3 linked regions of the Homo sapiens genome follow. The protein of the gene in region 2 interacts with the protein of the main gene of each other region in a biochemical or structural test. Each region holds a gene or a part of one and is shown on either strand. Other genes may lie near its edges. The genes, in order: APEX2, CUL9 and UBE2G1.

Region 1 (10,520 bases), on a different chromosome or scaffold from region 2:
TGCCCATGCTAGAATGCTTTCTACTTCAAAGCTCTGTTCTACTCATCTGTTAAGATTCAGCCATTTTCAGCTGCCTGTCCTGATGTCCGAGCTCACCTAGGAATCCCATCTCTGAGCTCCTGTAGCTTTCTGGGATGCCATCTGTGCCTCTGCCCTGAGAATACCATCCTATAATTGGCTAGCCATGTGTCTGTAGCCCACCACCATGCTGGAGAGCTCCTAGGAGCCAAGGGCTGGATCTGACTCCTGAGTCCTCAGTATGTGGCTCAGGGCCAGGCCATGGGCAGAGTCAGTATTGTCTATTGAATGAATGACCAATCCTCAGTACTATAAGAATAGTATTGCAAGCCAAGCTCCGCTTTCCCATAAAGGAAGCTGTCCCTGGGCCAAAAACTCAGGGTTGGTTGGCTGGACAAACAGAATCAGTCAGGAGTGGGGCCAGGCACCTAGAGGGAGCCTTACCAGGTTGACTGCATCCCAGTGGTCAATGGGGCGGTGGGCTGTATTCAGGTCACCCAGAATGATCACATGGCTGAAAAACACAATGTGGGATTGTTAGAAAGGGGTGCAGCAGTCCTGGCCCATATACTTTTTCCTGGGCCCAAGAGCTCAGACAGGCCCTCTCCCATATTGAGGCTTCCTAGCCAACAGCAACTCATAACAGCCTACCTCTCCAATCTTACCACAAACTTGCTGCCTTTCATATCTGACCAACCCAATTCTGATCTCCAAAGGTGACAGTGTTCCATGTTTGACATGACTGCCTCACTAATCAGGAGCCAATGGGCATTTTTCTTGTCCTTCAAAGCTGAGCTCAGATACCACCTCCCCTTGATTGCTCTAACCCACCCTCACTTTCCTGTCCTCCGCTGGAACAAGACTTTCCTTTGCTCCCACGCACTTTACCATTCTCATCTCATTTTACCCTTAAAACTATTGTGTAGGGTAGAGATTCATATATTCATTTGACAAAAGAGAAAACAGAGGCAAGACTAGCCCTAGGGCTCACAATGAGTAAGAGCAGGAGCCTGAATAGGTGCTCAGAGTACAAAACCCATGTTTGTTTTGAGCAGAGCCTATTCAGGTGGGCATATTGGTGTTTGCAACTATGCTGTGAAAGAACTCAGAGACAAAGGGTCCATATCCCTTTCAATGGAGCTTGACACAGGGCTGGGCACCCAGGACCAACTCAAGGAAGCCTTACTGCCCAGGCTTGCAGTACCTGCCTGCCGCCAGGAGGGCTTCTGCTCGGATTTGCAGCAAACGATAGAAGCGCATCTTAAAGACTAGCCGCTCAGGCCTCCCAGGGTCCGCATGGGGGCAGTACACGTTGATTAGGGTCAAGGTCTTCTCCTTACCTTCCCATGTGCTGGAGAAAAGAGAAACCCCCAAAAGGGGTCAGTTTCAAACCTCCCCTTCTGTCCCTTCCCCATACCACATGGCTTCCATTTTGTGACTGTCTGGGATGGAAAAGAAAGGGGTTAAAGAGACACAAATGATCTGGCATGCACAGGACTTGGGGACTGACTACTGATAAGGCAGGGAGAGGGATATCTAAGGATTACCACCAGGTAATGGTGCTGCTATTCACACAGAACACCCAGAAAGACAGCAACCTGGGGCACTGAGTTCAGCACTAAGTTGCTTTTGAGATGTCTATGGTAATAAGAGCTGGATCACTAGGCCAGCCCCACATTGTAGAGATGGAAACTCAAGCTTCAGAGGGGGGAAAAATTTGCCAGGGTCACACACTGAGTAGCCCAGCCAGGACTAAACCAGGAAAGGCAAATTTGGGAACTTCTCCACGGTGCATGTATGTTTACATGGCAAGCCTTAGAATCTTCACACTCAAAGAGTAGCACCAGCAGTGCTCAGTAGCAGGGAGATATGAGCTATTACCGGATCTTATGCTGTGTGAGGAGGGCCCTGCCCTCACTATCCAGAGCCCGGAGTTCCTCTTGGGTAAACTCATCCATGTTTCCATAGCAACCAACATCCCCATTCTGGGTGGCAAACAGGCCACTCAGGCCTTCTTCAGCAGCCACTGGGGTAGCATTGTCCTTACAGAAGGTGGCTACACCTGGGAACAGACAGGGCACTCTGAGCAGACCTGGCAGTCAATAGCCTGTTGCACAGCCTGTCCCACTCCAATTGTCCCCACACAAGTCATCTAAGTCATCTTCATAAAGTGTGGTTCTTGGGCAACCTTATTCAAACCCTGGAGTCTCAGTTCCTACATCTAAAAAAGCCACAGAATGTTCTAAGTGTTTTACATTGATACATGGTGAGTGCTCAAGACGTATTAGCAATTATTATTATCACATGGATTAATTCATTTAATCCTTGTAACAGCCCCGGAAGGTAAACATTATCCTCATTTTCTAGCTGAGGAACCTGAGGCACCAAGAGGTAATGTAACTTGCCAGAGGGTGCACAGCTAGGAAATGAGCCATGATTCAAACCCAGGCTGTCTGGCTCCACAGTTCACACAATTAAGCACCACACTACTACTGTACTTCTGAGGTCCAGTAGGATAATTCTATCCATAAAAATTATATTTCATGTAATTTACTATTATGCAGCTTTAGCTCTGTAAACTAAATGTCTAAGATTTCTTATTACCCTCTCATCAAATATTGGAAACCCTTTTCCCCTATCTGCCTCCCTCACTAATTTAAAGTCCACAGAAAGCCCCATTTACCAGAATAGCCGCTACGGTTGCGGCTGAAGCTGAAATAGGAGTTATAACCCTCAACGATAGCCAGGGGCTCTGTCAGTGCATCCCCTGGAAAAAAAAAATGTAAGATTAAGTCAGAGGTAAAACTAGCATCCGAGAAACACAAAGGCCTGGAATTACAGTTGTAGGCTAATTCCTTGCACACATCAGAGCCAGAGTTGGGGGTGACGGGAATGAAATATCCATGATTAGAGGAGGACCTAGAAAGATGGGAAATGTCAGAGAGGAAATTGATATCAGAATTAGAAGGCTTGGTGGGGGGCGGTTAGAGACTATGAAGTGGAGGTGGAGAATTAGGTGGGAAGGGGAAAGAATCAGAGCTAAGCCTGGGGGTCTGAACGATAGGAGGAAGCTGGGGATGGGGATGGACATACGAGAGGATGGTGGGAATCTGAGCTAAGGGTGAGAGGTAAGAGAGAGGGAATTAGGGGATCTGAACTGGGGGTGGAGGGAAAAGGAATTAGGGGATTCTGAGGGGAGATAAGAGGGTGAAGAAATAAGAGGACATCTAAGCTTGGGGTGGGAAATGAGGTGGGAATTAGGGACTTTCCGCTGGGAGGAGAGATGGGAATAGATAAGGGGTACTGGGGTTCTGAGGTGGAAATGTGAAAAAGAGGAAATTAGACTGAGCTGGGGTCAAAGATGGGGTGGGAATTAGAGGATCTGAGCTTGGGGCAGGGATGAAGAATTCGGGGGTTTGACTTGGCGGCGGGGAGATGGACAGCGTATGGAAGGAGGAAATTCAGGGGACTGAGTTTGGGGCCGGAGAATGAGTGGGAATCTGACTAGATATGGGGTTTCGAGAAGGAGCTAAAGTTTGCTGAAGACAGGAGATGGAGTGCAATTAGGGGATCTAGCTAGGGTGGGAAATGGAAGTTTAAGAGGGAAGGGACCTGGGTCTAAGGACAGGACTCTAAGAATAGGAAACTGGGAAAGTAAAATTACATGGGACAGGGGACAAAAGTTAGCGGGAAAGAAAAAGTATGTAGGGATCCTGGAATCCAGAGCGCTCACTGGTCACTTTGGTTTCCTGGAGACAGACGATATCCGCATCCAGCTCGTCCAAAATGCGCCCCACGGCCACGGCGGCACAGTTGCTGGGTTCCTGATTTGCCACCCCTTGCAGGGGTCTCCGAATCCCATTGATGTTCCAGCTCACCACGCGCAACATCTTAAAGGGCTGGAACACCTCCCAGCCCGCGCCAACCTAGGCGCGAGCGAACTGCTTCCTGTTCAGAAGTTGGCCAGGCCCGCCTCCCGCGCGCGTTTGCGCAGGCGTTCTCGTGCGTACCACTAAAGCGCCTGACGCACGTCGGGCGGGGGCTTCAACTTCCTCAGCTCTCATTGGCGGGAGGAGGAACTGGGTGGACGCTGAAGGAAGCAAAGCGGAAGCCTAGGGGCAATGAATGGCGAGAGGAGTTTCCAGTTGGGCTCCCGCTCCTTCCGCTCGGACAGCTGAGTCTCAATGCGTTTTTCCTCTACTCAGAAGTCCAAGTGGTGCGTCCGGTTACTTACAAACGGCATTTTGCCACTTTTTAAGCGACGGAACCCTGAGCGGAACTGCTCAGCTGCCAAAGCCCCGCCCTCAGTGCGGCGGACCGCCCACCTAAGTTCACAGATGGCTGCAGCGCTTGCGCCCCAGGAATAGCTGGCGCTAAGTGCTCGCGTTGGACTGGGCAAAGGGAAGTTCATGGTTGGAGGAGGGAGCAGTAAGAGTCGCTCCACTGAGATAAGACTTAGGAGGAGGGCCTTTGGCTTTATTGGGGCAGAGGGGAGGAGGAGGAGGCTGTCTCAAGCCTGCCCTGTAGCTTTTGTCTTGGCTCTTAACATTCTGAAGGATGTAGCCGGACACATCCTTACTCTTGGTTCTGTTTCTCAGATAAGTGAAATCGAAGCCCAGGAAATGTAAGCTCGTGAGCAGCATTGTCTCCGGATGCATCCATGGCTCTTCTGTATATGTTATCTCATTTCATTCTCAAGACAACCCAGTTCGGGACATGGAGGCTAAGTTAGAGACGTCGAATGAATTCATTTCATTCTCACAGTTCACTCTCTCTTACACTGAAGTAGTAGAGCCAGGATTCACACCCTGTCTTAATTAGCTCAATAATTACTTTTCTGAGTGTTTTTACTGACCACACACCTCCCCAGTTAAGTCTTTTCCTCTGGGGCCCCACGGCACCCTATGGTCCATTCTGTCACAGTACTTATAATACACAGCTATCATTGACTTCTATTTCTGCTGCCATTAGAATGCCAGCAACTTGAGAGCAATGACCATGTCTGGTTCATCTTGTTAGCCCCATCCCCTAATACTGGACACAGCATATGTTGGGAAGCAATAGATATTTGTCAGGTGAATGAATGAACAAAGGATAATAGCAAGAGCATCGACAGGTTCATGGCTTGTTTTTGAGAGCACAAAAATTAGAAGTAATGGATATGCCCAATGTCCAGGGAAAAGCATAACGATGCATCTTTAGGTTCCTCACCCAGAATTGCAGCATAATTATTTGTTCCCCAGAATTTAAGTCTTAGAGCCATCATCCTCAATGGTTACAGCAAAGACGCAGTAAACTGCTTTTCCTCCTGGAGGACTTAAAAGGTTACCAGTTGTTGCTATCAGAAAATAGCTCTGTGATTAAAATAAAAATTTGCATGTCCTGAGCTTCTTCATGCTTTGGGAGTTATTGACTCAGGATTGACTCCCATGAGTGCGATAACTAGGACAAAGGAAATGAACATTTTTATTGCTCTTGCTTCATATTGCCAGATTGCTTTCCAGTAAGGGATTATGCCCATTTACACTGAAGATCGATCTGAAACTCAGCACCAGCGAAATCCAGAACTTGCCTGTCTCCATGGCTGGTTTTAATTTCCCCATTCTGCAGTGGCTTGTTAATATTAGTTCTGACCTTTGGGGCAAGGTGAACACATGGTTGGACTGAAGAGAAAAGGCTTCTGGTGGCTCAGGAACGTCTTTGGCAACTACAACAGCTGATATTTCAACAGAGCACATACATCCCCCACTTAACAAGGGTACGTCCTCAGCCTTCTCAGGGAACCAACGAACACCTCCAGGCTTCCTCTTTGATGCCACCCACTGGACCTGCCTTGGGGGTCTGTAAATGCAAGAGAACCGAGTGTTGGATAATTAGCGATGGAAGAAAAAACCTCTAGAATAAAAGGTAGGTGAGAAAGAAGGGAAAGTAGGCAGGAGTTGCACAAATCCACATCCATTCTTCAGGCCCTCTGGAAAGTTTTCTTTGCATAGATGGTTGGTTGTCGTGTGCATTAAAGGGCATGGGAAAGTGGGGGAAAAGATTATATCTATATGTAACCTATTTATCTGTCTGTATATTTTTAAAAGTCCATTCTGGCCTTTATGGGACACTGGCCCCCAGGGCAATTCACTAGCACCTGTGAAAGTCTCTCTAACTTGGTCAAGTCTGGTTTTGAATGAACTGAGTGATTGAGATTATAGCTCTTACCTCCCCACTGATGTGTAAAGTAGGGTTGATTTGCTGTGGCGCTTTGAACAAGCTCTCTTGCTTCTCTGGGCATCAGTAGCTTCCTCAGTAAAATGGAAATCAAAGTCTCTAGCCAACGTTCCTCAGAGGGCTGTCACGATCAAGAAGAGTGGAAAGGCAGAAACCAAAGCTCTTTGGAGACATTTCAGGACTTCCTCGCTCTAAGAGTAGTCATCTTGCTTTTTCTATAGGCTCCACAAGCAATCCCACCCAAAACCCTCCAGCTGCTGTGCGACTATAGTCTGTGGAGAGCCACTTCCATGACTAGGATTCAGTGAGGTTTGGGGCCCAGGCATGAGGCCGAAAATAGTGGAGAGATGGTGGGCCAGGACAGTGGGTGAGAAGGAAGGGGATCCTAGGCTGCTGTCACAGAAGGCCTGACACTCATATACATGCACCTAGCTTGTAAGTGTGTGGTCGATCTCCCCTCACACCTTCACTCTCCACAAATGCATTCATACCCAAACAGTCTGAGAGCTACCAATAGGGAGACCCCATTCGTGACTTTATTATCCATCAGCACTGTCATATGCTGCTTTACATGGTATTCTCCCCCGATACACATGCCCTATACTTTGGGAGGGGTATGGGGTCAGGATCTGGGGGCCTTGGGAAATCACATTGTAATCTTTTCTTCCCTAGAGATAGCCCCATTTTAGAATTTTAGACCAAGAGCTGCAGGTCAGAGCTTGATCTTGAATGAGAATCTGGTACTGACTGAACCCTTTCTCTGCCACGAGTTCATTGGCCCTTTTCAGAGAGGACTTCATTCTTTTATCTGTTTCTGTCCCATTCAAGGTAGAGAAACCTTTCTGGATGCCACCTCCTACCTCAGACAAATTAGTTCTCCCATCCAATTCCCTGCACAGCTCTCTGTTATAATATTTACCTTGTTGAACTAGGATTAGTTGTCCACAAGTTCATCTCATCTAGGGCAGAGAGATGTAGACTGCACAAACACAATAAGCAAGTGTCTTCTCTGTCCTCTGTGCCAGGGCCTGAGTTGGACACTGGAAACACAAATTACAGATCACTGAGATCTAGTCTCCATACTCAAGGAGTTCACAGTCTAGTGGGGAAGCAGACCAGGAAAATACTGGTGGATACTTGCTCAGATAGGAGCATGTGGGCAATATAAGAACCAAATACAAGGCCTGTCCCAAGGATACAGGGGTCACTTCCCAGAGGAAGTGAACATCAAACCAGACCTTGAAAAGTGGATCAGATTTTGTTGGGAATAGAAGGAGGAAAATGGCATTTCAGGCTGAGCAAAGGCCAAAAAACAGGAAAATACACCATGTATTTTGGGGCCCAGTGAGTCAGCCAGTGCAGTTTAAGGATGATCTAAGGAGAGATATGGCTGGACAGATAGGCTGAAGCTTGATTGAAAAGTCTTGAGTGCCAAGCTGAGGTCTTTCCATAAAGCTTGTTTTGGTCTCCTGCTTCTGGGATCAGAATTGGTAACAGTAGTGAGGAATCTCATAGCTAATTCCAGGCAATTTTAAGTTAGGCTTTCAAGCCTGGACCCCAGGTTTACCCTTTAAGACTTTGTCAAAAGCCTGCCAGCTTCTTATCTCAGATTTCCTGCTGCTAAAATTATCCTTCTGCCTGTTGGCAGGGCCATGAGGACAAAATTGTAAACATAAAAGAGATGTTCATGTGACCAGCTAGATTACCTTGAACATGCCACTTCCCCTCCCCAGACCTCAGTTTCCCTGTAAGGCTAACAAGGATGTTTGCAAGGATCAAATAAGATAAGGAATATGTTGTTGCTTTGTGGGCAATGGAAAACATACAGGGAAAGGGTTATAATTAAGATTATTAATATTAACAGATTTATACCAGTTAGGAAATTTATTAGAATTAAAAGAGTTGTATCTCTTACAAAGTCTAGTTCTGAGACTCTAGAGGTTCTGAGCTAACCTGTAAGACCACATTCTTAGATCAGGCTTGTTTGATTAATTAAAGAAAAGCCCTGGCCTGGGAGAAATTAGGTCCCTAGTGTTCTATTCCTGACTTGGCCACTGATTTACTACATGACCTTAGGAAAATATTTCTAGACCTCAGTTTTCTTACCTGAGAGGGTGAGATGAAATGATCTTGCAAGTCTTTACACAAAATCAAAAGAGTAAAACCAAATTCATCCTTCTAATTGATTTGCAGGAGCTCTTTGTGTATTATAAATGTTAACCCTTTCCCATAATATTGTAAGTTTCCTTAACTGAGAGTTTTCTGTATGGTCAGCATTATATTAGAAGTTTCAGATTAGTCAAGGAGGTGTCTGATCATTTACCTCCCAAAGGGAGTAACAGTGTTAGATAATATATTTTTAACATTTCACAGATTGCTTTACATTTTTTAACACATTGAATCTTCAACAGTCCTAAGGAGGGTAGGTACTCCTATCATTCCCATGTTCCAGATAAGAAAACTGAAGCACTGAAAAGTTTAGTCTTCTGCTCATTGCCTCATAGCCAACAAGGGGCAGAGGTAGGATTCCACTCAAGAAATATTGCTCCAGAGCCTATTGCTCTTAACCATCATGATCTGCTATCTCAGTTGATTCATTTAGATAGGTGGGCTCTGGAATGTATTAAAAATTTGGTATGATTTATACACAACAACTGGAGGGAATCTGACCCTTGTGTAGACTACGGCTTGCAAATGTATTTTAGGGAACTTCTTAAAAGGCAAAGTGGAACTGAGAGCATTTGAGGGCAGGGATTGGAAATTTCTGTCCCCAAGAGATTGCCCTTGTGTAGCCCAGCTCAGTGGAAGAAAGTTGAGCTTCTTCATAGCCAATCGTTGGAGGTTCATTGGGGGTGGGAAGGTTGCAAAAGAGTGAAGTAAGAGGACACTTGTGCATCTTCGAGGCAAGCTGTGCAGTTCTATGAGTTATACACATAAAAGCCTCAAAACAACGGGTCAGGGGAGCGGGAGAGGGCAGGTGAGAGTGAGTCATCTGGGCTGGATGACTCTGGCCTATGGACTTGTCCTACTTTGAGGCCATTGCTCTCTGTTCCCTGCTGCAGCCTCCACCCTCCTAAATCTCCATCCTAATAGCTTGGCATGAGGAACTTTAGTGAAATTTTCTATCAGTTCATGATGCCAGTGTCATTCTCCTTAGGGCATCTGATGGTGGCTAACAGCCATGTGGGCAGAGCTTACCATTCCCCCACCTCCAGCCCCAGGCAATGGCTGCACTCTTCCAAAGGTGTCAGTTTACTCCTATTTATTTAGCCCTTGGCTGGAGAGAGTAGAAAGATGATCGGATAGTGCCCATCTCTTCAAGAGTGCTCCAGGCAGCACATTTCAGGTGGGAGAGGCCCTGTGGCAAGGAAGGCAGCAGAATCCAGAGAAGACAAGGGATGCAATGCCATTTTGGGTCGGGGAAGCAGAGAAGTAGTGGACCTTCCATGTCCAGTTTGGGCCTCTAATTGCCAGCTCAAAACACTGCATTCCCCAGTAGGGACTTTGTGTTTGTGTTTTTGTCCTTGGGAACCTTGCATTTCTGATGTGAATCTTGGTTTCTGGGTTGGAGCTTGACATTCTACTTGGGCCCATTTTTTTATTTCAAAGCTGGGAAAGCCGCTGAGACCTACCTCCATCACCTTTGCCTCTATACCCCACACAGGCTGTAAGCACATGATCTTTGGTCTTTTATTTGCATACTCTATTAGTCTTGTCTTCATTGGAGGGAAGTGACTGGTCAGACCTGGGCTGTGTTGCTGGCTGCCTTCCTTGTTGGGCTCCAACTTACCTCCTATGTACACAGCCCTTGGAGTTCAGAGGCCTCTCCTGACCTCTGCCCAACCTCTCGCCCTCTGCACCCAATACCCCACTAGTACATACAGGAGCAGAGGCAGGCTAGGACCAGAGGAAAGAAGAGAGGGGACTGAAGACAGACTTTGAGAGGGCTCAGAAACCCAGTACACCCCCTGTCCCAGCCCTGTCCACCTGCTGCTGTGGCCACAGCGAGAGAAAAGACAGCTAGTAAGATAGGAAGTGAGGCCAGGTACCTTGTGGGCAGTGATGTCATTCGGTGCGACTCCTAAGATGTCTCCAGAGATGGGAGAGCTCACCCAAACCAGGTTGCAGAAGATCTGGATTCCACACAGCAGCGGCAGCAGCAGGCTGCAACGGAGAAGGGGCTGTAAGTGGGGTTTGCTTCCGTGGGTTTAAAGGTGGTGGTGGTAGAGTGGGTGTAGAAGAGCAAAGGATGCACCTCCCCTTGCCATCCACTCCTACCTCAA
Region 2 (10,060 bases):
GAATCACTTGAACCCAGGAGGTGGAGGTTGTAGTGACCCGAGATAGCGCCACTGCACTCCAGCCTAGGCAACAAGCGAGACTCCATCACAAACAAACAAACAAACAAACAAAAAACCTCCTGGCCTGGCACAGTGGCTTATGCCTGTAATCTCAGCACTTTGGGAGGCTGAGGTGGGAGGATCACGTGAGCCCAGGAGTTCAAGATCAGTCTGGGCAACATAGCAAGATCCTGTCTCCAACAAAAATAACCCCAAAACTCCCTTTTCCCTTTTTCCAAACACTTAATCCCGAAGAATGTCCAGATCAAACTCTTAAAACCATCTGCATCTTTCCATTCCAAAGTCTACTCACTGATCTGAAGCACCAAAGTACCCCCTCAAGATCAGTAGTCCCCAGTCTGCCTGTCTTGCCCATTGTTCTCTCCCGCCAGGCCCAATGTACTCACCGCCAGCCCAGCCTGCTGCACCAAGACAGAAGTCTTATATTCTTGCATGCAGACCAGCACAGCATAGATGCCACCCTCCCTGGCAAAGAGCGGCCGCCACTCGTGCTTGGTCATGAGCAGGTAAAGGAGGCGCAGGGCCTGCACGACCACCATCTTCTCTCCCACCTGGTTGGTCAGCAGCTCCACCAGCATCTTCACTAGCTTCTCTCTGACAAGAGAAGAGATATTGGGGCTCCCCATCCCAAGGAGTCTTGCCTGACCTCCCAGCCATGGCACCGTCGGACTCCCTGACCAATCCCATCCACCAAGATCTAGTCCATCCTCTCTGCCCCACCCAAACCTGCTCTCCTGGCTTCAGTCTCACCCCAATCCCCTCCCCTCTGCAGCCTAACTGCCTCTGGCTCCTCGGCTAATGAAGGAGGCATTAGAAAAAATGTTTATAAACTCTGGCTCACCTTTTCAAATAAATCTATAAATTCAAAGTGATACTAATCAAAATGCCTAAAAGGTGGTTTTGTTTGTCTTTTCGTTTTTGAGATGGAGTCTTGCTCTGTTGCCAGGCTGGAGTGCAATGGCGCGATCTCAGCTCACTGCAACCTCTGCCTCCTGGGTTTACGTGATTCTCAAGCCTCAGCCTCTTGAGTAGCTGGGACTACAGGTGCGTGCTACCACGCCCAGCTAATTTTTTGTATTGTTTTTCAGTAGAGACGGGGTTTCGCTATGTTTCCCAGACTGGTCTCGAACTCCTGGCCTCAAGCAGTGTACTTGCCTTGGCCTCGCAAAGTGCTGGCCTAAAAGGTTTTTAAAAACACCACAACAGGCAGATCCAAGCCTTGGAAATGTTGAGAAAAAAATAGTGGTAGTCAGGTGCAGCAGCTCATGCCTGTAATCCCAGCACTTTGAGAGGCTGAGGCAGGTAAATTGCTTGAGCCCATGGCTTTTGCCATGGGCAACATGGCAAAACCCCATCTCTACAAAAAATTATCTGGCATAGTGACCTGTGCCTGTAGTCTCAGGTACTTGGGAGGCTGAGGTGGGAGGATCATCTGAGCCTGGGAGGTCGAGGCAGCAGCAAGCTGTGATCATGCCACTGCACTCCAGCCTGGCTGACAGAGTGAGACCCTGTCTCAAAAAAAAAAAAAAAAAAAAGAGAAAAGGGGTAGGCTTGCCTATTATTATCAAAATATAAATATAAACTTGTAATAACTACAACCCTGGAACTGACATAGGGTAGCTAAATAGATCAATAGATGAGAAGAGAGATAAGGGTGGTGTATAAGCCAGCAAAAAAAAAAAAAGGAAGAACCATTTAAAATATAATGTTGTCTGGGCACAGTGACACACACCTGTAATCCCAGCACTTTGGGAGACTGAGGTAGGTGGATCACTTGAGGTCAGGAGTTCGAGACCAATGTGGCCAACATGGTAAAACCCCATCTCTACTAAAAATACAAAAATTAGCCAGGCGTGGTGGTGCAGGCCTGTAATCCCAGCTATTCAGGAGGCTGAGGCAGGAGAATCGCTTGAACCCAGGAGGCGGAGGTTGCAGTGAGCCGAGATTGCACTGCTGCACTCCAGCCTGGGCGACAAAGCAAGACTCTGTCTCAAAATTAATTAATTAATTATTGACTGAGGCCTTGCTTGAGGCCAAGAGTTTGAAACCAGCCTGGGCAACATAGTGAGACCCCATCTCTACAAAAAGTAAAAAAAAAAAAAAAAAAAAAAAATTAGCTGGGTGTGGTGGCTCATTCCTGTAGTCCCAGATACTTGGGAGGATAAGCAAGAAGGGTTGCTAGAGGCTAAGAGTTTGAGGCTGTAGTGAGCTATGTGATCTTGCTATTGCACTCCAGCCCGGTCAACAGACTGAGACCCTGTCTCTGAAAAACAAAAAAACAAACAAAAAAAAAAACAACACGCACACACACACACACACACACACACACACACACACACACAATGCAATTTAGAGACACCTGGCTATCCATATGAAAACACTGAAGCTGGAGCTCTATTTCACAACATTTGCAAAAATAAACTGCAAATGAATTTTTAAATAAATTTAAAAAAAACAAAATCATGGGTATTTTTGGAAAATATAGGAAAATATTTTTATAATTCTGGAACAGAATAGATCCTTTTAAGTAGGACACAAAATCTAGAAGCCATAAAAAAGCTGAAAAATGTAGCAACAAAAAGTCTGAAACTCTAGCATGATGAAAAAAACACTATACACAAAATTACGAGACAAGCGCAGGAGCTAGAGAAAGGGGCCAGTGGAAATGCTGATCTAAAAGAAGAGGAAGAAGTGCCTCTAGAGTCCCTAGATCACGGTGAGGGTCAGGAGAGAAAATAGCAGGTATTGACTCTTGCTTAACAGTGACAGTGAGGCCAACTGAGGAGGTGGCTCGGGAACTACGAGGGGAAAGAACACAGAAGGAGAACTTCTGGGAAAGTTCTGTTTTTAATCTATCTTTTCTAAGAAGTTTAATAATGACAACAGTGTGAATGAAATATGCTTGAAATACATATCCCCTTCCATGGCCATGATTTATTATATACCAGATAATATACATGGGTAATACATATGACTAGAGAAATAAGTAAGGATGTTTACCAACATGTTAATAGTGATTGTCTCTGTCTTAATGGCTTTCAGATTTTTTTTCTGTCAATCTCACTTGAATATGATCAGATAATTTTTATTTTAATAATTTTCTAACTTTTTTACCATATGTATTATTCTATAACCAAAAAATAGAGCTAAGATGATTTTTAAAAAGACAAGCAAAATATCTGGAACATAAATAACAAAGGAATAACCAAAATGCCTATAAATACATTAAAAAAGGCAAAGATCCAATTAAAAAGTGGGCAAAGGATAATAACAGAATATTTATAGAAAAAAAAAAACAGAACAAATGTATGCAAATGTGCCTAACTTTACCAGAACTAGGAAATTAAAACAAAGAGATACCAATCATTTAAAATGCTGCCAATTAGATAGATTAAAAAAGACGACAATATTCAGTGTTGGCAGACGTAAGGAAAAACAGACGCGTTAGAACACTGCACTTGAAACTGGAGATAACCACACTGCAGGGTCCCATGCAGCAGTAAAAATAATGAGGCAGCTCCACCCAGACTGATATGGAAAGCCCTCTAAGACACTGAGCGGGGGCAAAAAAAAAAAAGTTGTAGAAACATGTAGAATGTGATTACATAGACTAAAACAAAGACTCAGAAAATGCTCTATTTCCAAACACACAATTACAAATGCAAATCTGTAGGATATAGTAGACTGATAACAGTGGTGAGAAAGGACTTTGGCCCTCCTATGTCCTTTTACATTCTTCAGATCTTTTAAAATGAGAATGCGGCTGGGCATGGTGGCTCACACCTGTAATCCCAGCACTTTGGGAGACTGGATCATCTGAGGTTAGGAGTTCGAGACCAGCCTGGCCAACAGGGTGAAACCCCGTCTCTACTAAAATACAAAAATTAGCTGGGCCTGGTGGTGGGCACCTGTAATCCCAGCTACTTGGGAGGCTGAGACATAAGAACTGCTTGAACCCAGGAGGCGGAGGTTGCAGTGAGCCAAGATCACACTATTGCACTCTAGCCTGGGTGACAGAGTGAGACTCTGTCTCAAAAACAAGTAAATAAATAAAAATAAATAAATAGAATGAGAATAAGTTGTGTGTTATTTGTATAATTTAAAAGTAGAGGGCTGGACGCGGTGGCTCACGCCTGCAATCCCAGCACTTTGGGAGGCCGAGGCAGGCAGATCACGAGGTCAGAAGATCGAGACCATCCTGGCAAACATGATGAAACCCTGTCTCTACTAAAAGTACAAAAATTAGCTGGGTGTGGTGGTGCCTGTAATCCCAGCTACTTGGGAGGCTGAGGCGGGAGAATCCCTTGAACCCGGGAGGCAGAGGTTGCAGTGAGCCGAGATCGCGCCACTGCACTCCAGCATGACGACATAGCAAGACTGTCTCAAAAATAAATAAATAAAGGTAGAAAAAAATTTAAAATAAAGTAGGTTTTAAGGTCTAATGTGAAAAAAAAAAAGTACGTAGGGACAGAAAAAAAAGAAAAAGAAAGAGAAAAAACTCCAGTTCTAGAGCCAAAAAGACCTAGGTTTGAATCCTGGCTCTGCTATCTGTAAAACTCTAAGCAAGTTACTTAAATTCTCTAAGCTTCAGTTTCCTCACCCATATAGTAGGATAATAATATTACCAACGCTTCCTCAGGTGTTAGGTGGATTTAATGAGAGAATGCATGTAAAATACTAGCACAGTGCCTGGCATAACAGAAGTGCTCCAAGAATACGAGCCATTAAAACATCCAACCCTCCTGCTCGGCTGCTCCTCAGGCTGAGCCTTCCCTCACCCCAAGCTTTTCTAATTCGTGATCTCAAAGCTCCTTCCCCGCTACCACCATCCTTTGCCTACAGCTTCAACCAAAACCTCTTCCCTCCCCAGTATGCTAACCTCAGCGATCTGTCAGGACGGACCAGAGGGTGGTCCCGCTCAGTGACCTCCTCCACAGCCTGAGAGAGGGCAGAGAGCCCTGAAAGCTGCAGGTTTGTGTCCAAGCTGGATATCTGCACAGTGGCCACGACCGCTGCCACATGCTGATCCAGGGAGCTGCGAGGACCGGGACCCCGCAAGGCTCTGGCCATTTCTGAAATTGGTGGGAAAAGGCAATGGCTAAAAGAACTGTGGCACCTTGAAGTTAGAAGTCTTTAAAGTCAAGCCCAGTTATCCTACCAATATTTAAACACATTATCGGCTACTGCAGCTTGCAGAGTTTTCCAATTCTGTGTCAGGGATCTAATGATCAAACAAAGGAGATGAAGACACCCCAGAAAACGGATCCTCCTTTTCCAGAGATACTGAAGGAAGGGAGCGCTGGTTAATTAAATACAATCAAGGTCAAAAGGAAGAAGATGGACGCATGGTTCCAAGGCATTTTCCCCTGCAAAAATCACCTTCCTCCATGGCTTTCCTTCGATCCTGACTATCCATTTCTTCTACTGAGACTACCCAGGACTTGTTCCAATTGCTTCCTCCCAGAACCTGACTCACCACTGGCTGCCTCCTTCATCTCAGTGGGCAGGGTCATCCCCTCAGTCACCAGAAGCTGGTTAAACAGCTGAGAATCACTCTGTGCCATGGGGGTCTCGGTCCTTGTCTTGGTGGGCTCGGCCTCTGTCTTAGGGGCCTCGGCCTTTGCTTTGAGGGACTCAGTCTCTTCCTCTGAGAAGCTGGCCTCCGACTTGGACTCCTCTTCTGGATCTGGGGTACAGGAGTGATTTCGTGAAGTAGACGAGCTGCTTGGTTCATTAGACAGCAGCCCATACTTGGTGTAGATCTGGGAGTTGAGCAGGTCATTGAGAGTGCTGCCCTCAAATCGACTACTGAGAACCTGCAGCAGACTCTCGGCCATTTCCACGGACACAGAGATCTCACCTAGGGCCTTTTCACCCAGGGTCTGTCAACAGAAGGGGTATACGTTTAAGAGACAAGCAGACACAAAGGTCTTGGGGTCAGTAATGGGAAGGGTGATCACTCCCTACCATGCCCCCACACCTTCTACATACTAGACCCTCACAGCACTTGCCTCCAACCCCCAGCAGGACTCCTCCTAACTCTAATCTCTAGCTCCAGCCTCCCCCTAAGCGGTAACCCCTATCTGAAACTCCCTCTAGAGAATCCCACCTCTAACCCTACTAGAAAACCCCCAGGTATCTCAGACCTATAATACCTCATCCAGGTTCTTCCAAAGATTCTGGAAAATTGGCTGCTGCTCACACAAGTCCAACTTTTTGATAAAGAAAAGCAGCTCCCACCATTCAGCCTGGGTCAGATATCCCACTCTCTCATTCTTCTGAGGTTCGGGCTGGAGGTACGGCAAAGGGTACAGCCCATCCATAGGATTCCAGTCCCAGGAGGGAAATGCTGAGGACACAGGCATGGCGGGCATCAGCACCCCTCAGGAATGGGGTCTATTTCTGGACCCCTAGGGCTGCTCCTGGTCAGAAGTGGCTTCATCCCAGTCACTAATCCTCTGTTCAGAGACATGCTATCCATGTCCCCTCTTAGGCTCACCTGTGCCCAACACAGTAGCCCCTGCCCCCTTCTCCACAGCTGCTGAAGCCTTATCCTCAGTGGCTTCCTCAGGGCCCAGGATCTCCAGCATGTGCCAGTGCACCCAGTAAGTGCGGCCTGTCGACTGCCAGAAAACCTGGTATGAGGGAGGAAGAAAGAGAGCAGAATAGAGAAGGCTCAACCCTCTGAGCCTTGGCCTGTGAAGGCTTGAAAGGACATGCCCAAGCATAGATCTGGGGCGCACCCTCAGATACACACCTGGCTAAGCCTGGAAAAACCCCCATATGGCAAAAGGCTTCCTTCCCTTATCAGGAGTGGGCCCTGCCTCTTTTCTTAACCATGATTCTCTGCCTCGACATTCCTTCCTAGCCTCTTCCACTGGTGTTGGTGGGGAGGTATCTCCATTTATCAGTTCTGCTTCCTGGGTGAGTCTCCCATGAACTTACAGCCCACCCACACCCCTGCCAGATTTTCTCAGCCCTCCAAATGCACCCCGCACAAATGCCAACCCCCTTGTATCATTCCAATTCCCCAGGGGGGTTCTTCTTGGGTGGCCTGCAGGAGTCCTCCTTATGAAGTCCCAGCTACACCCCACCCCAAATAAACTCCCAACAGTGTCTCACCACCATGTGCTGCCCACCTGCACAGGGGGAATGCCGTTGTTGCTCTGCCGGAACTCGCCCTCGTCCCCAGCACTGATCTCCTCATAATCATCCAGCATCCGCACTCGCATCCCTGGCTGCAGTGTCTGCTGCACATATTCTCCATAGCCACTACGGCTGGAGAATTCAGAGCGCTGGCGGAAGACCCACCCTTGTCTTCTGGGGGTGGTGACAATGGTGGGGAGTAAAAGGCTGGGGCCTGAAATGTAGGGCTGAAAGATGGACCGGGTTGGCCGGGGAGGTGACATGCCCTGTTCGCTGAGGTTCCGGGCCCAGCCCATGCTCCGCACAAGCTCAGAGATGAGGTTGCCCACAGCCATGCTGAACTCCAGTTCCCGCTGTCCCCGGCTTTTCTCTCTTGTGGCACATGGGGAGCTTTGGTCTCCAGCTCCCAGCTCTGGACTGCTATTCAGCTGATCCAGGAGGGACGTGACACAAAGGTAGCGCTTCACCAAGGAGAAAAGCAGCTTTCCTGGGATCTGTAAGACACAATCCTTGGGACAGGTTCATCTCTTCCTGGCTTTAGCCTCTCCCCTTCCCTGAAGTATCCTCCTCTACAGAAAAATATAAAGGCCTTCTCCCCAGGCCTGTAGTTCTGAAACTTTGATTTGTGTAAGAAAGGCATAGGGAGTGTCTTAAAACACAGATTCCTGGGTTCTCATCTCAGAAATTCTGAATGGAGAGGGGCTGGGAGGGAGGACATGAACCTTCATGTTAACAAGTTCCCAGGTGGCTCTGGTGCTAACATTCAGTCCTGAACCACGTTTTCATAAATAATGTCTTAGCCCTTGTACACAGCATTTCCCTACAGCTGGCAGTGTACCTGAGGCAGATGAATGCCCTCAAAGGCCATGCAGTGTTCTTCAGAGGATGTGGTTTCTGCAAACAGCTCCAGCAATGTATAGCGACTGTCAAAATCCATGTGCTGCTCGATGCCATCTTGCTGGCTCAGTGATAGAAGGACGTGAGCCCGACTCCCTGTAATCCATACCCAATCCATATCTTCTCCTCAATCCCCAGTACTTTCTCCCTGCCTTTCCTAGATTCTATCTCCTACCCCAGACGCTTTCAAACTTTGTTACTAAGGCTCACAGAAAGAAATACATTTTACATGGTAACCTGTTACAAACATACATACATATAACTGAAACATATATTTTATGCTACAAAATTTACCCCTACTAAGTGCTACACACTAATGACTTAAGTTTTTAAAAAAATGTTGGTTGTAACCCACCAAATTGATTTCAAAACCAACTAATAAATCTCAATCCAGTTTCAAAAATACAGATAAGTCCTATTCTCTTCTCTGGTCAATGCACTGAGAATGAACAGATAAGCCAGAGGCTATCATTTTAGCCTCTTTATATACCTGAAATAGCCTATTAATCTATATTTTTTCCTTTGCATCAAATTGATATTCACCAAATACTAGGTGTTCTTACAGAGCTAGGAAATCTCTCCTCTTTCTTATTCCCTGTGGCCCCATTTTCTCCATTCCTTTCCTTCTTCCCTGGCTGTCTCTTACCAGCATCGTGGGCTGCCAGAGCCTGCAGCATTTTGCCTGCACTCCGGCGGATCTGAGGCTCAGGATTGCATAACATGTGCATGAGCAGGTCCAGGGCTCCTGTCTCCCTGAAGACACCAGTGAGGGGCCCGATGCTGGCGTAGGCACTGAGCACGTGGATGGTGTGAAGCACAGCGGCCGTGAGGCTTGGGGTCCCACTTTCTGCCAGCTGCCTGGCCGCCCTGCGTACCAGCGCCTGAACATCAGCCTCCATCTCTCCCATTGCCACTTCATCCAGGCCTCCTGGATCTCGAGGAAAGCTTCCTGAAACCCCAGCTGGTTCGTGCTGAAGTCCCTTAGATAGTGCCCGCTCACCTAACAGCCCAGGGCAGTTGGCGTAGACCTCAGGAGCCGACAGCCACATGAGGATGTGCTCTGCTTTGCCTTCTTCCACACCCACTTTGCCCACTTCCCCACACTTCAGGACACTCCATCGGATCAGGTATTCAGGATGCCCGTCATGCCCAGGCCTCTGTCGAATGAGTTCTTCAGGATATGCCTGCAGCCGAGGCCCTAAGGGCACCATGAGGTCCCCAGCATGCCGTTCCCCCACCATCCTGACCTCCTGGGATACACAAGGAGAAAGATAAGGCAGTATGAGAAAAGAAAAAAAATACATGGAGGGGGTGGAATCTTGAGACACAGAGAAGGTGGGTGGTGATCGGTAGGCTGCATGGTAGAATTTAGGAGGCCAAACAGAAAAGGCAAAAAATAGGATGGAATAAATAGCTGAACATACTTTGGGATTTATAACAGAAGGAGAATGGAGTGAAGACAGAGAGGGGATGAAGAAGGGGTTTAAGAAATGGAAGAGTTGGCTGCGCCCAGTGGCTCACGCCTGTAATCCCAGCACTTTAGGAGGCCAAGGTGGGCAGATCACGAGGTCAGGAATTCAAGTCCAGCCTGGTCAACATAGTGAAACCCCGTCTCTACTAAAAATACAAAAATTAGCCAGGTGTGGTGGCACATGCCCGTAGTCCCAGCTACTCAGGAGGCTGAGGCAGGAGAATCACTTGAACCCAGGAGGCGGAGGTTGCAGTGAGCCAAGACCGCGCCACTGTACTCCAGCCTGGGCAACAGAGTGAGATTCTGTCAAAAAAAAGAAAAAAAGAAAGAAAGAGAGAGAGAGGAAGGAAGGAAGGAAGGAAGGAAGGAAGGAAGAAAGGAAGGAAGGGGAGTTTACAAAAAGAGAATTAAAACAGTAATAGGCAAAGTAACAATAAACAGAGTGACAGTTAAGCAAGACAGTTTAGGCAGGATAGCAGGGTGGCT
Region 3 (10,060 bases), on a different chromosome or scaffold from region 2:
GAGTCACTCTGGGATTACAGGCATGAGTCACTAAGCCCGGCCTGCCAGACTATTTCCTTAGAAATTCATTTACTGGCTGGGAGCGATGGCTCAAGCCTATAATCCCAGCACTTTGGGAGGCCGAGGCGGGTGTATCACCTGAGGTCAGGAGTTTAAGACTAGCCATGGCCAGCATGGTGAAACAACATTTCTACTAAAAATACAAAAATTAGCCGGTTGTGGTGGCACACGCCTGTAGTCCCAGCTACTTCTGAGGCTGAGGCGGGAGAATCGCTTGAACCTGGGAGGCCGAGGTTGCGGTGGGCTGAGATCGTGCCACTACACTCCAGCCTGGGCAACAAGAGTGAAACTCCATCTCAAAAAAAAAAAAGAAAAAAAAAATTCATTTACTACTGGCTGCTCTGCCTATGGAGTAGCCATTCTTTTTTTTTTTTTCTGAGACGGAATTTCTTGTTCCCCAGGCTGGAGTGCAGTGGCATGATCTCAGCTCGCTGCAACCTCCACCTCGCGGGTTCAAGCGATTCTCCCGCCTCAGCCTCCTGAGTAGCTGGGATTACAGGTGTGCACCACCACACCCAGCTAATTTTGTATTTCTAGTAGAGATGGGGTTTCTCCATGTTGGTCAGGCTGGTCTCAAACTCCCAACCTCAGGTGATCCGCCCGCCTCGGCCTCCCAAAGTACTGGGATTACAGACGAGAGCCACTGCACCTGGCAGAGTAGCCAGTCTTTATTCCTTTACTTTCTTAATAAACTTGTTTCACTTTAAAAAAAAAAAAAAAAAAAAAAAAGGCCAGGCACGGTGGCTTACGCCTGTAATCCCAGCACTTTGGGAGGCTGAAGCGGGCAGATCACCTGAGGTCAGGAGTTCGAGAACAGCCTGACCAACGTGGAGAAACCCCGTCTCTACTAAAAAATACAAAAAACTAGCTGTGCCTGGTGGCACACGCCTGTAACCCCAGCTACTCGGGAGGCTGAGGCAGGAGAATCGCTTGAACCCAGGAGGCAGAGGTTGCAGTGAGCCGAGATGGTGCTACTGCACTTCAGCCTGGGCGACAAGAGCGAAACTGTCTCAAAAAAAAAATTAAATAAATAAATAAATAAAAAACGTTGTTTACATAGTGCTACTAAATGTAGCACCTCAAGGTAGGGATATCACATCAATTACCTTTGCGTTCCCGCAGCATCTCAATACAACGGCATATAAGGGCTCAATAAATAAACTTTTATGCTGATCCTTTATTCCATTTTCCAAGCAACCACACAAGTTTAAATGAAGACTGCTATTTAAAATTAGGATGGTAGCTGTGCGTGGTGGCTCATGCCTGTAATCCCAGCACTCTGGGAGGCCAAGCCAAGAGGATTGCTTGAGTCCAGGAGTTCAAGACCAGCCTGAGCAACACAGCAAGACTTTGTCTCAAAAATAATAACAAAAAAATAAAATTAAGACGGAATTTCTGTCTTAAACTACAGGTTTCTCTATTTCAACTTCCTGTTCCTTGAACATGTTAATAGAGCAACCATGTAGTTGTATTTATAACTACAAATATTAAGTTCTTTATTTGAAAAAGGATTGATAATAATGCATGGTTACAGGTGACTTTTTTTAAAAACTTCTTATTCTGAAATACAGTCCCATAGGACAAGGGGGAACTGTACAGAAAGGTTTCCTGTAACCTTTACCCAGTTTCTCCCAAATGCTAACACCCTGTATAACTCTAGCACAATATCAAACCCAAGAAATCGACAGTGGTGCAATCCATATACTTTATAGTCCCCCCACCCCTGCCCCATCGGCATTTTCAATTACTTGTGGTCAAGCCCAGTCTGAAAATATTAAATGGAAAATAACAGAAAAAATAAACAATTCCTAAGTTGTAAATTTTGTGTTGTTCTAAGTAGCATGATGAAATCTCACACTGTCCCTCCTGCCTATCACTTAGCAGTGCCTGGTTTCAAGTAACCCTTATTTTACTTAATAATGGCCCCAGAGTGCAAGAGTAGTAATGCCGGCATATTGTTATCATTGCTCTGTGTTATTATTGTTGTTAGACTAACATAAATTAAATCCTATCATAGGTATGCATATATAGGAGAAAGCACAAGGTTCAGGACTATCAGTGGTTTCAGGCATCCCCTGGAGGTCTTGGAAAGTATTTATCCCATGCAGATAAGGGAGGACTACTGTATTCAGATGTCATCACTCGGTTGTGTGTGTGTGTGTGTGGGGGGGGGGGGTGGGTGTATAACTCTATGCAATTTTATCACATTTGCAGATGTGTGTAATCACTATCAAGATACAAGACTGTTCATCACCACAAAGATCCCTCATGTTACTGTATACCACATATCCCTCATGTCCCTAAATCCCTGAACACCACTATTCTCCATCACTGTAATTCTGTCATTTCAAGAATTTTATACAAAGGTGCCAAGACCACCCATAAAGAAGGACAATCTAGCCAAGATCCCACCACTGCACTCCAGCCTGGGCAACAAGAGCGGAACTCTGTCTCAAAAAAAACAAAAAAAATAGACTGGATGTGGTGGCTCACACCTGTAATCCCAACATTCTGGGAGGCCAAGACAGGAGGACTGCTTGAGCCCAGGAGTTCAAAACCAGCCTGGGCAACACAGCAAGACCCCATCTCTATTTTTATAAAAAATTTTTAAAAGATATATGTAGACACAAAGAGAGAGAGACCCTGTCTCTTAAAAAAGAAAAAAAAAAGCAAGCTGTTTTCTATCTATAGTGGATATACAATTATACATTCCCACCAGCAATGTATAAAAGTTCAAGTTTCTCCAAGTCCCTGGCAGCATTTAGTGTTACAGTTTTTTTAATTTTAACTATTCTAACAGGTAAGTAGTGATATCTTACGGTGATTTCAATTTGCATTTCCCTGATGTCTAATAATGTTGAACATGTTGTCACTTGTTTGCTATTTGTATGTCCTCTTCAGTGAAATGTTTCTTGGTGTCTTTTGCCCTTATTTTTTAGGCAGGGCCTTGCTCTGTGGCCCAGGCTGGAGTGTAGCGGTGGTGAAGTCACAGCTCACTGCCGCCTCAAAATCCCCATCTCAAGCGATGCTCCTATTCAAGCCTCCCTAGTAGCTGAAACTACAGATGAGAGCCACCACACCTGTCTAATTTTGCCCATTTTTTTGAATTGACTTTTTTTTTTTAAACTGTTGAGGGTTCTTTAAATATTCTAGATACAATCAGTTGCCAGATATGTGATTTGCAAATGTTCTTCCAGTTTGTAGCTTGTCTTTGCATCCTCTTAACAGTCTTTAATCAGGTAAAAATTCTTAATTTTCATGATGTCCAGTTTACTAATATTTCCTTTTATGGCTCATGCTTTTGGCATCAAGTTGAAAAAGAACTTGGCTGGGCGCGTGGCTCACGCCTGTAATCCCAGCACTTTGGGAGGCTGAAGCAGGTGGATCACCTGAGGTCAGGAGTTCAAGACCAGCCTGACTAATATAGAGAAACCCTGTCTCTATTAAAAATACAAAATTAGCTGGGTGTGGTGGCCCATGCCTGTAATCTCAGCTACTCGGGAGGCTGCAGTGGGAGAATCGCTTGAACCCAGGTGGCAAGAAGTTGCGGTGAGCCGAGATCGTGCCACTGCACTTAAGCCTGGGCAACAAGAGCGAAACTCCATCTCAAAAAAATAAAATTAAAAAAAAAAAAGGAAAAAGAACTCTTTGCCTAGCATTACTCTGTCTTAACATAGAAACCCTAGAAAATATATACCTTACATAAGAATATGATAATGTAATTAAAATGCATGTACATTCAAAAGCAAAGGAAAAGTGTCTCCTGACATAAAGAACTTTTTTAAAAATTCCTATTTGATAAAAGGAAAAGTGTCTCCTGACATAAAGAACTTTTTTAAAAATTCCTATTTGATAAACTTACTTAAAAGCAGTCTTGTTTTACAAGATTAAAGCAAACAAACAACAAACAGCTGCCAGGTAAAAATTTAAGGTCTTTGTTTTTTGTATTTTTAACATATCCCTAGCCAATAGAAGAGTAAATAAGAATAGCTAAAGGAAAAAAAGCAAAGATACAGCAATAGCAGTTTTTCTAAGTCACTGGACATGGGTATAAAGGTTAAATAAAAGGTAAAATAAAATATTTCCGCTTACAAAAATTAACTTGTTGCAAATCTAGAACATAACTTTATAAAAAGAGGTATACATCTCTACAGCAACAGCAATACAGTACAGTATTTCTTCCAGAAGTTTCTATGAGGGCCAGAATCTATCAATGGAACAGCACTGATAAAAACTTCTGATTAGACCGGGCGCGATGGCTCACGCCTGTAATCCCAACACTTTGGGAGGCCAAGGCAGGCCAAGGAGACCATCCTGGCCAACATGGTGAAACTCCATCTCTACTAAAAATACAAAAATGATCCAGGGGTGGTGGCGTGTGCCTGTAGTCCCAGCTACTCAGAAGGCTGAGGCAGGAGAATCACTTGAACCCGGGAGGCAGAGGCTGCAGTGAGCCAAGATCTCGCCACTATACTCCAGCCTGGGCGACAGAACAAGGCTCCATCTCAAAAAAAAAAAAAAAACAAACAAAAAAAAACTGCTGATTAACTCAAATTAGCCCAATACTATCTTGCACTAGGGGGAAAAAGTTTAGAATGTTTTATTGTAACATTTAAATATCTTATTTCCTGAAACTACATTTTATTCTTTATCATTTATCTGTTTATACCAATAATTCATATTCATTACCAAAATTTGGAAAATGTTTGCTTTTTCTGATTTGTACTTTTCTGTACCTGAAATGCTATTAACCATATAAAACTACACTATGTTTACCTTGCCAGATTTGTTTCCATAAGCCCACACTTCCTTCTCTGAAAAGTTATTTCCTACAAACCAATGAAAGGTAACATTAGACACACCCTTAGAGGTCATCTAAATTCTAACAAAAATTTAAATCTAAAAAAAAGGTTTCAATAATTAAGAAATGCCAAATTATTTATCCTAAATCAAACTGATCTCATTAAAAGAGTGCTTAATTAATACTTTACTTGCTTAAAGCAAAGGAATGCCCACACTGTACCCTCCTGCCAACAAAAAAATTGTACTGAAGTACCCAAGACCAAAAGAGGCGAAGGATTGAAACTCATCTTGACAGTGCAATCAAACATTCTTCACCTGAGAAAAGGAAGTCAAAAGGCAACAATATAATGATAGTCACTGGATTATCAGATTTTCCACCCTAGATCCACTCTATTAAATAATGATAAATGCACCTAATTTCACAACTATATATGGAAATATCACAACATATAATGTGTATTAACAAACTATATAATAAAACTGGCCCGGCGCAGTGGCTCACGCCTGTAATCCCAGCACTTTGGGAGGCTGAGGCGGGCAGATCGCCTAAGACCGGGAGTTCAAGACCAGCCTGACCAACATGGAGAAACCCCATCTCTACTAAAAATACAAAATTAGCCAGGTGTAGTGGCACATGCCTGTAATCCCAGCTACTGGGGAGGCTGAGGTAGGAGAATCACTTGAACCTGGGGAGGCGGAGGTTGTGGTGAGCCTAGATCATGCCATTGCACTACAGCCTGGGCAACAAGAGTGAAGCTCCGTCTCAAAAAATATACATCTATGCAATAGACGGGCTGGGCGCAGTGGCTCCTGCCTGTAAATCCCACCACTTTGGAAGGCCAAGGTGGGCAGATCACCTGAGGTCAGGAGTTCAAGATCGGCCTGGCCACCACGGCGAAACCCTGTCTCAACTAAAACTACAAAAATTAGCTGGGCGTGGTGGTGGACACCTGTAATCTCAGCTACTTGGGAGGCTAAAGCAGGAGAATCACTTGAACTCAGGAGGCGGAGGTTGCAGTGAACCAAGATCGCACCACTGCACTCCAGACTGGGTGACAGAACAAGACTCTGTGTTGGGAAAAAAAAAATGCAATAGAGGCCAGGGGTGGTGGCTCACGCCAGTAATCCCAGCACTTTGGGAGGCCAAGGTGGGCAGATCACTTGAGGTCAGGAGTTCAAGACCAGCCTGGCCAACATGGTGAAACCCCATCTCTACTAAAAATACAAAAATTAGCTGGGCATGGTGGCCAGCACCTGTAAGCCCAGCTACTACAGAGACTGAGGCAAGATAATCCCTTGAATCCAGGAGGGAGAGATTGCAGTGAGCTGAGATTATACCACTGCACTCCAGCCTGGGTGACAGAGTGAGACTCCGTCTCAAAAAAATAAAAATAAAATAAAATAAATATATAAAGTACTCAGCACAGTGCCTGGTACATGTTAGTCCTCAGTAAACGTTAGCCTATATAAACATACATACAAGAACCTCTCTGAAAAGACACATTTGTCAGCCAGGCATGATGGCTCATGCCTGTAATTCCAGCACTTTCGTAAGCTGAGGCGGGTGAATCACCTGAGATCAGGAGTTCAAGACCAGCCTGGCCAACATGGCAAAAACCCTGTCTCTACTAAAAATACAAAAAATAAGCCTGGGCATCGTGGCACACACCTGTAATCCCAGCTACTTGGGAGGCTGAGGCACAAGAAACGCTTGAACCCGCGAGGCGGAGGTTGCACTTAGCGGAGATCGTGCCACTGCATTCCAGCCTGGGCCACTGCAATCCAGCCTGGGCGACAGAGCAAGACTGTCTCAAAAAAAAAAAAAAAAAAAAAAGACATATTTGTCAATGATGGGTTGCTTCCACAAAAAGAACTTATGGCCAGGGTGAAAAGACTATGTTTTTTTGTACTCTTTGCATTTTTAACCAATGCTTATAATACCTTTTCAAAAGATAAAATGTTTTAAAAGTATCTCCTGTGCTGAGGGATTTTTTAGTGTTTAACATAAGGCACTGCAAAACTTGAATTGCCACCGCTCAATTTGCAAAGGAGTAAGTCATAGTCTAATAATATCCACAGAGAAATACACAACCTATCTGATTTCATGAATCTGTTAGGTGTCTTTATTTGCTTAACAATTAGCCATAATGGTCTTCTCTGAAACATTTTAACTCAGTAATCTTCAATCTGGGATGATTTTGTCCCTCAGGAGACATTTGGCAATGGAGACATTTATGGTTGTCACAACTAAGGGAGTATGCTACTGGCATCTAGTGGGTGAAGGCCACGAATGCTGCTGAACATTCTATCTATAATGCACAGAATAGGCCCTACAACAATACTCAACCCAAAACGTCAGTAGCGCCAAGACTGAGACACTCCACAACCCAAGGAACCATTTTGTTCAATTCTGAAAGTAACCAGATTCTTCATTATGTTATCAACAAAACATACCCGATATATTCTACCAAGTAATTAATTTAAATCCTTAAGGATTGACAGACTAGAGGTTCAATAAATGTAGCCATTGTTGTTTTAAGTTTTTGGAAATTTTATACAAAAATTAGCCTGGCGTGGTAGTACATGCCTGTAATCTCAGCTACTGGGGGCCGCAGGGGGCAGCAGAATCGCTTGAACCTGGGAGGCGGAGGTTGCAGTGAACTGAGATTATGTCACTGCGCTCCAGTCTGGGTGAAAGGTGGTGGTGGCTCACACTTGTAATTCCAGCACTTTGGGAGGCCGAGGTGGGTGGATCACCTGAAGTCAGGAGTTCGAGACCAGCCTGGCCAACATGGTGAAACCCTGTCTCTACTAAAAATACAAAAATTGGCCAGACACAGTGGAGGGCTTCTGTAATCCCAGCAACTCTGAGGCCGAGGCAGGAGAATCACTTGAACCCAGAGGCAGAAGTTGTCGTCAGCCAAGATCTCGCCACTGCACCCCAGTTTGGGCAACAAAGTAAAACTCTGTCTCAAAAATAAAATAAAACAAGGCTTTTATTTCACTGTGTGTAGTTATCGAATCTTTCCAATAAATTTGATATGTTTACATTTCAATTAAAATTCATTTGCCTTGCCCTACTACTTTGTACATTTTGAGCATGTTAATTAACATGCTTCAAATTTTAAAAAAAAATTAAAAACAATCCCATTGTTTCTGATCAAGAAGGCAGGAAAACTTAAATCTGCAGCTAAGTAACTTTACAATGAGGCCTGAAAAAATACAAATTAAATTGTTCTCTCCTCTATCTTAAAGTGTATTTTAGTATGCCCCATCAGAAAGTCAATCATTAAGAAAGAGCTTTGGGACGTTTTATTAATATTTGCTATATACATTGTCAAAAAAAAGTGCAAAACGGAACCAGATGACCATCAAAATCTAGAGCTGGTTCACAAACGGATAGGAAATCCTTTCACACATTGCTGCTGCTGACATTGTTATCTTATTTTACTTTCTTAGTAATGCATAACTTCTTTCACACCTTTTAAATGTTTATCTTTTCCATTATGTAAGAATTCAGAGAGGCCGGGCCCGGTGGCTCACGTCTGTAATCCCAGCACTTTGGGAGGCTGAGACGGGCGGATCACGAGGTCAGGAGATCAAGACCATCCTGGCTAACACAGTGAAACCCCGTCTCTACTGAAAATACAAAAAATTAGCCGGGCGTGGTGGCGGGCGCCTGTAGTCCCAGCTACTCGGGAAGCTCAGGCAGGGGAATGGCGTGAACCCGGGAGGCGGAGCTTGCAGTGAGCCGAGATTGCGCCACTGCACTCCAGCTGGGCAACAGAGTAAGACTCCGTCTCAAAAAAAAAAAAAAAAAAAAAAAAAAAGATGCAGACGGGCACGGTGGCTCACGCCTGTAATCCCAATACTTTGGGAGGCCCAGGCAGGCGGATCACCAGGTCAGGAGTTCAAGACCAGCCTAGCCAGCACGGTAAAATCCCATCTCTACTAAAAATACAAAAAATTAGCCAAGCTTGGTGCCGCGCGCCTGTAATCCCAGCTACTCGGGAGGCTGAGGCAGGAGAATCACTTGAACCCAGGAGGCAGAGGTTGCAGTGAGCCGAGATCGCGCAACTCCACTCCAGCCTGGGCAATAGAGTGAGACTCTGCCTCAAAAAAAAAAAAAAAAATGCAATAAAGTTCTTTTTTTTTTTTTTTGAGACACAGTCTCGCTCTGTCGCCCAGGCTGGAGTGCAGTGGCGCCATCTCGGCTCACTGCACATCCGCCTCCCGGGTTCACGCCATTCTCCTGCCTCAGCCTCCCGATTAGCTGGGACTACAGGCGCCCGCCACCACGCCCGGCTAATTTTTGGATTTTTAGTAGAGAAAGGGTTTCCCCGTGTTAGCCAGGATGGTCTCGATCTCCTGACCTCGTGATCCGCCCGCCTCGGCCTCCCAAAGTGCTGGGATTACAGGTGTGAGCCACCGCGCCCGGCCCTTCTTTTTTTTGAACAGAGTCTCGCTCTGTTGCCCAGGCTGGAAAGCAATGGCGCGATCTCAGCTCACTGCAACGATGCCTCCCGCGTTCAAGCAATTCTCCCGCCTCAGCCTCCTGAGTAGCTGGGATTACAGGCGCCCTCCGCCACGCCCGAATAATTTTTTGTATTTTTAGTAGTGACGGGGGTTTCACCACTTTGGCCAGGCTGGCCCTGAACTCCTGTCCTAAGGTGATCCGCCAGCCTCGGCCTCCCGAAGTGCTGGGATTACAGGCGTGAGCCAGCGCGCCCGGCCTCAGTGCTTTTCCAGCACATAATTTTTATGAGTATCCTGTAGTATCATTAGAACTTCTCCATTTACTGCAAGCTAACTCCCCCTGAGCATCTAGAACTTTAATACTTGTCCAAACCTGCTTGCTCATGGTCTAATAATAAACCCAATTATACAATCTGTAAGAACCCCTGACAACCTTTTCCTTAAGAAGCCATAAAGGTGATTTAACGAACACCTCAAACTCTTAGTAAATGTATTTCAAAAACAGATTTCATCACTCCAGTCTTTGGCTTCTGCTGAGGGCTAGAGGCTACTGGTTTTAGAGTGGGTAGGGGGAAGATCGCTTGAACTGAGAATGACACACGCCGGGTGTTGTACAGCAGGGGTAAGTGCTGGTTCATTTCTCTTTAAATCTGGCAGCACGTGGGGCTGCATTGTGAAGCCACCAACCCGCCTCCCCCCTTCCACTCCGCACACGGACGTC

The links.
Region 1: of the proteins of CUL9 (region 2) and APEX2, one has a biochemical effect on the other in vitro, tested with the Homo sapiens proteins (one study listed by BioGRID).
Region 3: the proteins of CUL9 (region 2) and UBE2G1 form a complex in vitro, tested with the Homo sapiens proteins (one study listed by BioGRID).

The regions. Positions count from the first base shown.
Region 1 is NC_000023.11:54,993,811-55,004,330, reverse strand, and holds the start of APEX2 (DNA-(apurinic or apyrimidinic site) endonuclease 2), read right to left. Parts: upstream 3,969-10,520; 5' UTR 3,909-3,968; coding exon 3,752-3,908; intron 2,786-3,751; coding exon 2,702-2,785; intron 2,081-2,701; coding exon 1,900-2,080; intron 1,370-1,899; coding exon 1,223-1,369; intron 533-1,222; coding exon 463-532; intron 1-462. Other genes in the region: PFKFB1 (6-phosphofructo-2-kinase/fructose-2,6-bisphosphatase 1), read left to right, coding at 10,300-10,420. UniProt on the Homo sapiens protein: Functions as a weak apurinic/apyrimidinic (AP) endodeoxyribonuclease in the DNA base excision repair (BER) pathway of DNA lesions induced by oxidative and alkylating agents.
Region 2 is NC_000006.12:43,183,595-43,193,654, reverse strand, and holds part of CUL9 (cullin-9), read right to left. Parts: intron 9,354-10,060; 5' UTR 9,345-9,353; coding exon 8,750-9,344; intron 8,200-8,749; coding exon 8,045-8,199; intron 7,701-8,044; coding exon 7,200-7,700; intron 6,696-7,199; coding exon 6,560-6,695; intron 6,410-6,559; coding exon 6,216-6,409; intron 5,943-6,215; coding exon 5,537-5,942; intron 5,463-5,536; exon of another isoform or gene 5,235-5,462; coding exon of another isoform or gene 5,219-5,234; intron 5,133-5,218; coding exon 4,940-5,132; intron 655-4,939; coding exon 447-654; intron 1-446. UniProt on the Homo sapiens protein: Core component of a Cul9-RING ubiquitin-protein ligase complex composed of CUL9 and RBX1. The CUL9-RBX1 complex mediates ubiquitination and subsequent degradation of BIRC5 and is required to maintain microtubule dynamics and genome integrity.
Region 3 is NC_000017.11:4,355,285-4,365,344, forward strand, and holds part of UBE2G1 (ubiquitin-conjugating enzyme E2 G1), read right to left. Parts: intron 1-10,060. UniProt on the Homo sapiens protein: Accepts ubiquitin from the E1 complex and catalyzes its covalent attachment to other proteins. In vitro catalyzes 'Lys-48'-, as well as 'Lys-63'-linked polyubiquitination. May be involved in degradation of muscle-specific proteins.